Linked DNA regions of Homo sapiens: regions 1, 2 and 3 are each reported to be linked to region 4. Evidence: microRNA targets listed by miRTarBase, many of them from high-throughput screens and not tested one by one. Region 4 holds a microRNA gene; each other region holds the end of a gene's coding sequence.
Evidence for each region. Region 4 holds the annotated microRNA hsa-miR-548c-3p (CAAAAAUCUCAAUUACUUUUGC, at 1,134-1,155, opposite strand). A microRNA usually pairs through its seed, bases 2 to 8, with sites in the 3' UTR of a target mRNA and lowers its output. Matches are read on the target gene's strand: a 7mer-m8 pairs with bases 2 to 8, a 7mer-A1 pairs with bases 2 to 7 and ends in A, and an 8mer does both.

Region 1 (3,114 bases), not on the chromosome of region 4:
CATTCAGTCTAGTCATATGGTGCTAAGAGCTGGTTTTAAGCACAGCAAATATAGGCTGGATCCCTGCAGTCTGTAGGAGGTAAGTATGGGAACACAGTACTTGCCACTGTCAATTAACAAAAAGCGAGCACTTCAGATTGGCTGCTCAGAGGCCCCTCAGGCTGTACTCAAGCTGATTTGAATGGCAAAGAACCTCTGTGGGGAAACTAGCCAGTGCAAAAGCCCAGAGGTGGAGTTAGGAAATAGCTGGTGAGACAGAAGCCTCAGGAGACCTCGCAGCAGGGATTTATGTTGGGGAAGATGATGGGGCAGAGAGGAAGCCAAAGACCAGTGAGGAGGCAGTGGTGTGGGCCAGGCTCAATAAAGGATGGCTGCTTCTGCTGTTTCCTACTTTAGGTCAAAGCTGGTTCTGTGAAGCAGGAGTTTGAAAAGCAAGATGAACTGAAGCGCTCTGCAATGAGGGCAGTGGCTGCCCTGCTGACCATCCCCGAGGTGGGGAAAAGCCCCATCATGGCCGACTTCTCTTCCCAAATCAGATCCAACCCTGAACTTGCTGCCCTCTTTGAAAGCATCCAGAAGGATTCCGCTTCAGCCCCCAGCACAGACTCAATGGAGCTCAGCTAGTCCCCTCAGCACCAAGGTGGGCCCTCGCTTAAGAGAAAGGAGCCCACCCAAGTCCGAGGCCTCCCCATCCCACCATCGCAGGTCTCTACTTTTGCCCTTCCACCATCTCACTGGGGGCCCTGTCGCTCCTGGTCAGGGCTTACAGTGCCTTCTCCAGGGACCCAACTCAAAGGCCCCCAGCCCAAGCTGTGAGGCTGCCAACAGTTGGGCCCCTTCCTTAACTCAGGACAGTCATCCAAAGAAATAGGGTGAGGAAGTTTTCCAGTGACTTCACACTGTACCCCTCCATAGTCTGTCTGGTTCCTTCAGAGGGTGTCTCTGCCTCACAAACTAGTAGTATTTAGAAATAGGCTGTGCTGTCAGCTGTAAAAGATCAGGAGGCAGCAGACACCACTCTGGTTTCTTCACTGCATTCAGCAATGCCTGAAGTTAGTGCTCAGGCCGGGCATCTCAAAAGAAAAGATACTTGAGTTATTCACATTTTAAAATTCAAAACGGTTCATTTTTAAGTGGCAGTGATGAATCAGAAATTTGGAAGATGATACGGGTTTCTTTTTTCCAGGGAGGAGGAATGGGTTGGGTAGGGAACTGGACAGGCTTGGACCTCATGTTTCATTTCTAATTTCAAAATACTTATTAGCAAATTGGGCAACAATGGGCATCTTCCATGCCACCACCCAGGCATAACCAGTTGGTTTGTTTCCTTCTGAGGAAGGTTTCAAATGTGTCTAGTGTTCAGTATTGAGGACAAAGAAATACAAGTGGCAGGCCCAAGTATTTTCTGTGATATCCCAGGTTAATAAAGATTAGATTCTAAGTTACTTCTTTCCTCTGCACGACTCGTCTCCAATTGTTAATCGAATCGCCTGAACCCAGGAGGCAGAAGTTGCAGGGAGCCAAGATCAAGCCACTGCACTCCAGCCGGGGTGACAGAATGAGTCTCAAAAACAAAATCCCAAAAATGACCAGTTTGCATTATAAATATTTATGACTAGGTTTTGAACAGGAGACAATCTGTAAGATTCCTGTCTAGACTAGAAGTAGAAAAGCTTTATTATACCCAGCGCAGCATTTCTGCTAAGTTGACCAGGATGGTTACAGAAAAACATCCTGTAAGCATTTCTGTCTCATAAGTACCACATCCCATATCCCTCATGACCTATATACTACAGAAGATGCCTGTAATCCCAGTACTTTGGGAGGCTGAAGCAGGATTGCTTGAGCTCAGGAGTTCGGGAGCCTAGGCAACATGGCTAGACCACCTCTACAAAAAAACTTCAAAAACTACCCAGGTTTGGAGGTGTGCATCTGTAGTCCCAGCTACTTGGAAGGCTGAGGTGGGAAGATCACCTGAGCCTGGGGAGGTCAAGGCTGTAGTCAGTGTGCCACTGCACTCCCAGCCTGGGTGAGAGCAAGACCCCGTCTCCAAAAAAAATCAGGACCACGTGTCACTAAATTCTGAGTACCAGTCAAGAGGCTCAATTGTCACCAGTTAGGTCCCCGCCTTGGCAAACTGCTGTAACATTATACCTGAAGCAGCAGCTGGTGGGAGGGTTATAGGAGACTGAAAGTGCTTTTCCAGTTAACCGTGGTGGATTACCTGGAAGAGCAATTTGTACATCATCCTGTTCTTTTTGGACAGAAGTTACAGGATGCAATTTAGGCATCCCGTAAGAATCTGTGTAAGAAATTCATCTGGATATTTCCATGCATATTTTCTCAATTCTCACAAGCATCACATGGAATAACTTGTCACCTAACTTTACAAAAGCAAGGCTAAGAATGACTACTTGTGGCTTGGGAGCCACAAGCTTCTTCAAGTGTCTCAGAACCTACCTGGTGTGAGGGCCAAGTCTGTACCCCTCATACCCAGCCTCAACTGGAGATGACTAAGGCTAGTCTGTGCACTTGAGGCCACATTCCCCTGTTCAAGGACTGAGTGTCCTTTACAAATCCCCTCCAAATGGGAGATTCCAAAGGGGCTTAAGCAAAAGAACAATCTCTGTGGCAAACTAAGTTGGCCAAGAAGCTGAAGACTTAAAATCAAGGAAGGAAGATGCCAGATGGCAGTTTTTACATTTATTTAAACAGAAAACGTGCACATGAGCTGCCTACTCATTTTCTTCACTGCGCAGCCTGGCATTGGGGTTGGTGACTCTGATGGCCAGTTGGGCAGCTCTTTCCACGATGGCTTTGCGGTTCTTGGAGGAAACATTGTGAGCGATCTCGGCACAGTAAGATCTGCAAGAGAATCAAGTAGGTAAGGAGCAAGACAGCCCTCAACACACTTGGAAAATTCCATTGGAGAGGCAATGAGTCCCAGCACCAAGCTAAGAGAGGGCTGCTTGGTAAGTGGCTGTGGAATGACACCTACATGCCCCCAAATCCTGACTATGGTTCCCTGGTGGTGACAAGAATGCTTTCATTAAAAAGTACCCTCATTGTCCCCTCTCATCCTTATAGCAGCCTTGTAATCCAGGCATTACCTCC
Region 2 (3,114 bases), not on the chromosome of region 4:
ACCCTCTGAAGCCATACAGAACAAGTCAAATTCATCTTTTTTTTTTATATCACAGTCCTTTAGATATTTGAGAACATGTATCAAGGGCCTTCCCAATCTGAGTCTTAGCTCTTTCCATGAATGGACTGGGGCCTCAGTGATTCTCAAGGACCCTTATAGCTGTTACATCATGTTTTCTTGATTCTCTAACCTCTAAATCTGTCTTCATCAGCTAGTTTTGTGAAGGATAAGGACAGGCCTCCTGTCCTATTTGGATTGACTTGTTTTTTTCAGGTGATGACTATAGATAGTTACCTTTTAGAGTACTCCCCATCCCAGGATGCCCATTTTTTTTTTCTCCATTTCAGCAGTGCCCCCCAGAGACATTGAAGAAGGCAATGTGAAGATGCTGGGCATGCAGATCCCCATAAAGAATGTTGAGATGCTGGCCTCTGTTTTGGTTGCCATTAGTGTCACCCTTCTGCTCGTTGTTCTGGCTCTTGGTGGAGTGGTTTGGTACCAACATCGACAGAGAAAGCTACGACGCAATAGGAGGTCCATCCTGGATGACAGCTTCAAGCTTCTGTCTTTCAAACAGTAACATCTGGAGCCTGGAGATATCCTCAGGAAGCACATCTGTAGTGCACTCCCAGCAGGCCATGGACTAGTCACTAACCCCACACTCAAAGGGGCATGGGTGGTGGAGAAGCAGAAGGAGCAATCAAGCTTATCTGGATATTTCTTTCTTTATTTATTTTACATGGAAATAATATGATTTCACTTTTTCTTTAGTTTCTTTGCTCTACGTGGGCACCTGGCACTAAGGGAGTACCTTATTATCCTACATCGCAAATTTCAACAGCTACATTATATTTCCTTCTGACACTTGGAAGGTATTGAAATTTCTAGAAATGTATCCTTCTCACAAAGTAGAGACCAAGAGAAAAACTCATTGATTGGGTTTCTACTTCTTTCAAGGACTCAGGAAATTTCACTTTGAACTGAGGCCAAGTGAGCTGTTAAGATAACCCACACTTAAACTAAAGGCTAAGAATATAGGCTTGATGGGAAATTGAAGGTAGGCTGAGTATTGGGAATCCAAATTGAATTTTGATTCTCCTTGGCAGTGAACTACTTTGAAGAAGTGGTCAATGGGTTGTTGCTGCCATGAGCATGTACAACCTCTGGAGCTAGAAGCTCCTCAGGAAAGCCAGTTCTCCAAGTTCTTAACCTGTGGCACTGAAAGGAATGTTGAGTTACCTCTTCATGTTTTAGACAGCAAACCCTATCCATTAAAGTACTTGTTAGAACACTGAAAGACTGAATTTGGTGATTTTTGACAGTCTCTGTGGCTTCTGTCACTGTGATTGAAACAGAAAATACTTAGGGGGTGAGTGAGTATAGTATGTATTTGTCTAGCCTTTGTAGAACCTACAAGTTTTTGTTTTAGAGATGAGGAAGCTGTTCCAGAGGAAGCATCAAAGAGTGCTGGGTACCACCCTAGAAAAGGAGCTGTCGCATAAATGACAAAAATTTTCTGAGTGTCAAGAAAATTTGCCAGAGGGAAATAGAAGTCTGAGACGAGACTCAAACCTGTCCAGTGGGCCAGGGGAAGTAGGACCATATCTTATGGGGCCTTTTTGGCAGTGGTGGTGTGAAAGGTCTAGTTGCAACTTTGGGGGCTTCCTTATAGGATGGAGTCATTCTTTCTGGTATTTTACAGCAATATTCCTTTGTTACATGCAAATTTGAGCCAAATATTGGTTAGAGAGCACAGATAAGTGATAAATTTTAGATTGGGTAAGATGGCCCACCCCACTGCAATATCCATAATATTGTACCACATGGCAAGTGGAGAACAGAAGAGGTATCAAGGAGAGAAAAGATGATAACTATGTACTGTTTTACACTTTAAAAAGCATTTTAATTCTTGATTGCGTTTGGATTACCTCAGGGCAAGTCATTTTACATTTGAGTAATGTTATCCATTTATACATTTGAGTGAACAAAAGCTTATGGACATTAAGTAACTTCATCCAAGATCCCTCAGGTAGAAGTTGAGCAGGGATTCATGTATTCATCTGTTTGACTCCAAATACCTATTTCATCCTCATATATCATGGAAACATCCACTAATCTCCATCCACCTTACCCATATTGATTCCAACTTTTCTGTCTGTCCAGCAATCTGTCTGTCTAGGTAGCAATCTCTTGAAGATAAAATGTAGAAACTCACAGAGCTGGTGTTCAGTTACGATATAAGTTTGGAGGAGAAAACACAATCCAGAAGCTATGATTCCTCTTGTTTTTCCATGGTCAATGGGTTTCTGGAGAGCTTTACTGAGAATCTCAGAAATAAAGTGTGGGTGGAAGGGGGATTTAGATGGCTAGTTATCCAAGAGTTAGTGTTTAGGCCATTGCAGAATCAATGATTTAACAGCAGCAGAACTGTTTTGGCCTGCAGTTAACATGAATGTTAATGAAGACCAAGTACATGCTAGGAATTCCAGTCAATTAATGGTTATAATTTACATGCAACTAGGAGGTTCTTAGCTTGGTCTCAGTTATAACTCTAAGAGACTAGGAGAGGTAGATGAGATGGAATGCATTTCTTCTTATTTTGTAATCCTGCTCCAGGTCAAGGAATAGAAACTCAGAGCCCATGTATTTAAGAAAGAAATGTATTTTTGTGGTAAGTTTGCTCCAAGTAGGGATACAAGTATCTATTTTTGACAATCAAGTGACATTGCCATCTATTCAGTTGCTCAAGCTGGAAATTATCAGTGTCAACACATCAGTGAGTCTCGGTTTTATCTCCAAAATGTATTTATCCTATTCATTTGTTTCTATCTCCATTGCTATTCGTTTCCATCTCCATTGCTACCACCTAAGTTTAAAACACAACCATCTGACCCAAAGCAATCTATAGATTCAGTACAATCCCTATCAAAATACTAATGACATTCCTCACAGAAATTAAAAAAAAAATCCTAAAATTCATACAGAACCACAAAAGACACAGAATACCCACAGCTATCCTGAGGAAAAAGAAAACTGGGGGAATTACATTACCTGATTTCAAATTATACTGCAGAGTTATAGTAACAAAAACAGCACAGTACTGGAATAAAAGTA
Region 3 (3,100 bases), not on the chromosome of region 4:
TGTAAGAGAGAGGTTTGTAACTACTTATGCATGGGTTTACTGCAGGTTGTACTCTACTCAAAAAAAAAGTCAAGAAACTCTTTTGAATAATTAGAGTCCCTAATGCCAGACATTTCTGATTTCTTTCTTTTTTTTTTTTTTTTTTTTGAGACCGAGTTTCACTCTTGTTGCCCAGGCTGGAGTGAAATGGCACGATCTTGGCTCACTGCAACTTCTGCCTCCCAGGTTCAAGCAATTCTCCTGCCTCAGCCTCCCGAGTAGCTGGGATTACAGGCGCCTGCCACCACGCCCGGGTAATTTTTGTATTTTGAGGAGACACGGGGTTTCACCATGTTGGCCAGACTAGTCTATAACTCTTGACCTCAGGTGATCCACCCACCTCGGCCTCCCAAAGTACTGGGATTACAGGCGTGAGCCACCACGCTTGGCCTCTGATTTCTTCAATAGTGTTTAAAAAATAATGGGTTTTTTTCATTGTCCTAAACCATCTAAAGTACTCATAGAATATTAAATATGTAACATCCTAAGATATTTGTAGCTATGTCTACCTATCTGTGTGTTTTGACTTGGGATAAGTATTAACATTGGTTTCTGTGCATTTCAGATGACCACCTAAGAAAGGAGGAACAGAAAAGTACTAACATTGAAGATCTTCATGTTTCTCAGGCAGTCAACAGATAATGCTTTGTTTGGGGTATCTTTTGTCTTAAAATTGTATTATTAATTAAATAACTTATTTATTGTCCCAATGTTACCAAAATGCACCACTAATGTTTGTAGAAATTGGAGTTTCTACAAAACACCCCTCATGTTTAACTACATTTGTGAATAAAAGCTAACTCTTGTCATCTAGCTTATTGGATTTGACTTGAAAAAAAAAGTATTGTTTTTACGAAGTATTTTTTGTTTTTTTGAGATGGAGTCTCGCTCTGTCACCCAGACTGGAGTGCAGTGGCACGATCTCGGCTCACTGCAATCTCTGCCTCCCGGATTCAAGTGATTCTCCTGCCTCAGCCTCCCAAGTAGCTGGGAAAACAGGCCTGTGCCACCACACCGGAGTAGTTTTTGTATTTTTAGTAGAGATGGGGTTTCACCATGCTGGCCAGGCTGGTCTTGAACTCCTGACCTCAGGTGATCTGTGTGCCCCAGCCTCCCAAAGCGCTGGGATTACAGGTGTGAGCCACTGAGCCCAGCCATTTAGGAAGTATTATAAAGGCCCTTAAAGTTTGTAAGGAAATGAAAGGGCTTTGTATTACCTTTTCAATAGGCAACAATGTACTTTTTCTTTCCTTAGACTTTGGCTTACTGGAAGATTTAATTAAAAGGTAGAGGAGAAGTAAATTTGCTGTAATAATTTTGCTGTAAATAAAACAAAGAGTTTATTTTATTAGATAAAGAATGTGAAGTAAGCATGAAGAGACAGGCTTTGGGAGAAATACCAGAAAGGGATTTTTCAAAGATGGCATTGTTTAATCTCCGTGTGGCCCTCGGTTGTGCAATCACAGATGAGCCAGAAGAGGGCCAGCCCCCTACTTGTTTGGGCTCCGAAACTCTTACCAAACATCAATTTTTATTCTTGGGATAGAAAAATAGTATGTGCTATCTCTAATACGCTACTTCGATATTTATTAAAGAAGTATTTTTAATGTAGTGTCCACAGGCTCATTTCATTGAAAACAACTGACTATGATGATAGACAGCTCCTGATTGGCAAAAGTTCGATGGTATATTCAGAATTAAATTTTGCCTGCACACCTAAACACTGACAACATTTAGCTTAAAGGTTTTCCATGGAGAAGAGTGGTAAGAGCTGTAGTTAGCAAAATTGGCATCCTCTTTAGGGTGTCAATTCTGTGCTGCTTTGCAAATTGTTGAAACTTTTGATTTTCTGTTTGGCAATGCTAGTCAGTGTTCACTTCTTACAGATTAGCCAAGAATTTTTATCTAAATGCAGAAACTTATTAATGAAATCCATTTAAACTATACTTACACAACATTTTGGGAGGCCCTGCTGGTAAAATTATATATGGATGCAGAAGTATTGCAAGAGTCCATTTTCCATTTTTAAATCTGCAATATCTGATTACATTGATGAATTCCGTTGTATTGTATGTGTGAATATAAATATCTGAATTCTCCCGGGGGACTTGGTTTTCGTCCAAGGATGTTGGCAGTGGACACTTAGTTTACCTCAGGAATTGCAATCATGTAAGACTATATTCGGAAAAAATGCTGGAGTATATAATTTTGGATACTGATATAAAATCATCAAGATGGAAGTTAAGCAGAATTGTCACGTGTAGTCCATAGCGCTTTTATATGCATTATTCTGTAATTTGTTTGTACTGCGGCAACTTTTTATACTTTCAATGTATCATTTAATAAAAAAAATAAGCAAGTCACTTTGGTGCAAAGGGTGTTCATATCACTGTTCTCTCATCAAAAGCCACACATCAAAAACAGAAGAATGATTGGAGATGGCTGCCATGCCTTCCGTCGGGATCTTCAGAAGCTTCGCTGTTGAGGGGTGGAGGCGGGGGTACTTTCCTGCCGTCTGCACATGTTTATAGGAAGGAAGGAAAAGCACAGAGGACAAGCCAACCCTTCTCATAAATGTGTTATATTTAAGTACCTTACTCGTGGGTTTCTTGGAATTGTCGGGAGAACTTATCTTCTAGAGATGCTCCAGAAGTTTTAGGAGAAAACTTGGATTTACACAAAAACAGGATGGGAATGGGAACTGAAGAGGGATTTAGGAAATGTACAACTTGGGTGATCTAAAACCTCATAGCAGGAGCAGAGGTGGCTTTTGAAGAAGATAAATTTAAGCTTAGTGTATATGCTTGCACAGAACAAACTAATAGCCTTATAATGATGTGCAAGAACACATTTGTGTATCACTCACATACCTTTATGTTGATGTAAAATTTGATGTGTTCTTTTAAAGCCAAGTGTACATGAAAGATGAACATTTGTGAGAATATGCCTTTAAAGGCATTTGGGACAATGCTTCCCGGCCACTTGGTACTTGATTTTTTGGTAACAACCACGATTCGAGGATTGTGTGGTGTTCAGGAATCTTATTAAAATAAAAGTGAAA
Region 4 (3,114 bases):
CTGCAGTGAGCCGAGATCGTGCCACTGCACTCCAGCCTGGGTGACAGAGTGAGACTCCATCTCAAAAAAATAAAAGAAAATAAAATTCTGAAATATCTGAAAGGGCTGTACCTTCCACCTAAAGGAACACTGGCAAGAAAAGCAATCCACAAGCCTGTCTGAACAAACAGAAACAGACCTTAAATGGACAAACGTAATATTGTTTCTTTATACCATCTACATAATATTTACATTTTCCCATAGCTGGGAAATTACTCACTACAGTCAAGTACCCCTAAATTTACCTCTGGCATGTCATGAAACCTGCATCTGCTTAAGGCCTAAACGGATAAACGTGCTAGTTAAATTTCTCATCTCAGAGTTCCTCTGAAATTAAAGTCCAATAAAATCAACTGAATTTTAATTCCCTTGGAATGCCCTGTTAACTGTAAAACACTAAGAAATGCTAAAGTTAATTTTGGTACTGGTACTTTTCCTCCTACGTGATATATTTAACTATGTTGTTTTCTATTTTCATTTAAAAAAATTTTGCTCCTATGACTTTGCTGGCAAAATATCAAAAAAGATTCCTCGAAACAAGCATTTGTAGAAAATTTTCACGGTGGCCGGGCGCGGTGGCTCATGCTTATAATCTCAGCACTCAGGGAGGCCGAGGCAGGCGGATCACCTGAGGTCAGGGGTTCGAGACCAGCCTGACCAACATGGTGAAACCCCGTCTCTACTAAAAATACAAAAATTAGCTGGGCATGGTGGTATGCGCCTGTATTCCCAGCTACTGGGGAGGCTGAGACTGAAGAATCACTTGAACTCAGGAGATGGAGGTTGCAGTGAGCCAAGATCGTGCCACTGTACTACAGCCTGGGCAACAGAGCAAGACTCCATCTCAAAAAAAAAAAGAAAGAAAAAAGAAAATTTTCACAGTAAGCTTGTTTGAATTAAGAAATTGGGGATTAAGGAGGGCTCATAATCTATCAATCATAAAGTCAGAAGTAACTCTTCACATCTTTTTAAAAGATTCACTTGATAAAAAGATTCTGAAAGAAAAAATTTAAAGTAGGAGTTAATCAGAATAAAAGAGATTAAGCAACAATTTTCTACTTAGGCTTCAACAAGCCTGAAAGTATTAAGTTGGTGCAAAAGTAATTGAGATTTTTGCTACTGAAAGTAATGGCAAAAACCGCAATTACTTTTGCACCAACCTAATAGATGCCAATGCCGATTCCTTTCTCATCGCAATTTTTCAACAAAAGACAGTAAGCCTATAAGTAAACAGTATAAATTATCTTTGGTGGGTAAGGTTTCCAGCAGTTTGTCCTACCATCCTTTTTTCAATACCTAGTATACTTACAAAATAAGTTAGGACTGGCCAGGCACGGTGGCTCACACCTGTAATCCCAACACTTTGGGAGGCCAAGGCAGGCGGATAACGAGCTCAGGAGTTTGACACCAGCCTGACCAACATGGTGAAACCCTGACTCTACTAAAAATACAAAAAAAAAAAAAAAAATAGCTGGACATGGTGGTGCATGCCTGTAATCCCAACTACTCAGGAGGCTGAGGCAGGAAAATAGCTTGAATCTGGGAGGCAGAGATTGCAGTGAGCCAAGATCGCGCCACTGCACTCCAGCCTGGTGACAGAGCAAGACTGTCAAAAAGATAAAAATAAATAAGTTAGGTTCTTCTAAATTCTACCAGAGTGGTTGGAAAACAAGCCCTAAATTTATTGAAATTCAAAGATAAACAGGAACTTCTAGTCACCCTTTTTTTTAAAACACATGGTTAGTAGAAAACACATCACCCAACTCCCCACCTTCTGAATCCCACGGGTTTATTTATGGTGATGCTTTCTTAGCAATGCCTTTCCCATGTTGTAACTACAGGAGTAATAAGTATTTTTCTGAGTTTCAGTGATGTCAGCCTGAAACACATTCTGAAGTATTTCAAAATGCCTGGGCCGGGCACGGTGGCTCACGCCTATAATCCCAGCACTTTGGGAGGCCCAGGCGGGTAGATTACCGGAGATCAGGAGTTCGAGACCATCCAGCCTGATCAATCCTGTCTCTACTAAAAATACAAAAATTAGCCGCGCATAGTGGCGCATGCCCATAATCCCAGCTACTTGGGAGGATGAAGCAGGAGAATCACTTGAACCTGGGAGGCGGAGGTTGCAGTGAGCCAAGTTCGCACCATTGCTCTCCAGCCTGGGCAACATGACCGAAACTCCATCTTAAAAAAATGAAAGCCTGAATATGTAATATCCTTTTGGTACAAACAGTGTAAGTCAAAAAAAACCCTGAAGTTCAGCTGACCTCAAAAAAGCAGAACCATCTACCAAGCTAAAAATGCACAGACTCAAGCAGTGCTCTCTCAAGATTTTGCCTACCTAATAGACAAATGGGCAAAGGTCATGCATGGACAATTCTCACACAAGGGAGATTTACTCAGAAGTATTTAAAAAGTATTAAATTCACAGTTAATTAAAGGAATGTGCCAGGCGCAGTGCCTCACGTCTGTAATCTCAGCACTTTGGGAGGCCGAGGTGGGTGGACCACCTGAGGTCAGGAGTTTGAGACCAGCCTGGCCAACATGGTGAAACCCCATCTCTACTAAAAATACAAAAATTAGCAGGGCGTAGTGGCAGGCGCCTGTAATCCCAGCTACTTGGGAGGCTGAGGCAGGAGAATCTCTTGAACCTGGGAGGCGGAGGTTGCAGTAAGCCAAGATCGCGCCATTACACTCCAGCCTGGGTGACGAGTAAAACTCCACCTCAAAAAATAATAATTTAAAAAATAATAATAAAGGAATGTAAATTAAATAGCAATAAGGTGCCTTTAGTTATTGAAGTTTTTTTTCTCTATTTTAATGACTATATCCAATGGAAGTAAGGGTGTAATGAAACTTAAAAATAGACATAAATTGGCAATATATAACTAGAATCATAAAAAGTCACACCCTCATAATTAGTAAAATTCCATTTTTGTACAACTATCCTATAAAATTAATCCATAATGGAAAAGGTTTCATGCTCAAGGTATTTATTAGTGCTATTTACAGTAGCAAAAATTAGAAACCTCCACATTTTCCAATATTTGGGAATAACGCCAATTCAATAAA

Region 1: miRTarBase lists RPL32 as a target of hsa-miR-548c-3p. Seed matches in the 3' UTR shown: 7mer-m8 at 2,055-2,061.
Region 2: miRTarBase lists HEPH as a target of hsa-miR-548c-3p. The part of its 3' UTR that is shown has no 7-base or 8-base seed match.
Region 3: miRTarBase lists CEP20 as a target of hsa-miR-548c-3p. Seed matches in the 3' UTR shown: 7mer-A1 at 1,070-1,076, 7mer-m8 at 1,448-1,454, 7mer-A1 at 1,567-1,573, 7mer-A1 at 1,639-1,645, 7mer-A1 at 1,937-1,943 and 7mer-A1 at 2,061-2,067.

The regions. Positions count from the first base shown.
Region 1 is chr3:12,833,359-12,836,472 of GRCh38, forward strand. RPL32 (ribosomal protein L32) reads right to left here. Exons shown (of 4, transcript NM_000994.4): 4 at 1,127-2,865. The coding sequence ends at 2,736. CAND2 (cullin associated and neddylation dissociated 2 (putative)) reads left to right here. Exons shown (of 15, transcript NM_001162499.2): 15 at 397-1,445. The coding sequence ends at 624. Among named protein-coding and RNA genes, the nearest start is that of SNORA7A, 5.5 kb to the right of the region's middle.
Region 2 is chrX:66,266,093-66,269,206 of GRCh38, forward strand. It overlaps HEPH (hephaestin), which reads left to right. Exons shown (of 21, transcript NM_001367233.3): 21 at 348-1,297. The coding sequence ends at 580. Among named protein-coding and RNA genes, the nearest start is that of HEPH, 100 kb to the left of the region's middle.
Region 3 is chr16:15,865,021-15,868,120 of GRCh38, reverse strand. CEP20 (centrosomal protein 20) reads left to right here. Exons shown (of 5, transcript NM_144600.4): 5 at 605-2,402. The coding sequence ends at 681. Among named protein-coding and RNA genes, the nearest start is that of MYH11, 9.5 kb to the right of the region's middle.
Region 4 is chr12:64,620,610-64,623,723 of GRCh38, reverse strand. MIR548C (microRNA 548c) reads right to left here and starts at 1,215; the gene lies at 1,119-1,215. The region is part of intron 1 of RASSF3 (Ras association domain family member 3); the gene reads right to left. MIR548Z (microRNA 548z) reads left to right here and starts at 1,119; the gene lies at 1,119-1,215. RefSeq lists an enhancer at 2,134-2,293.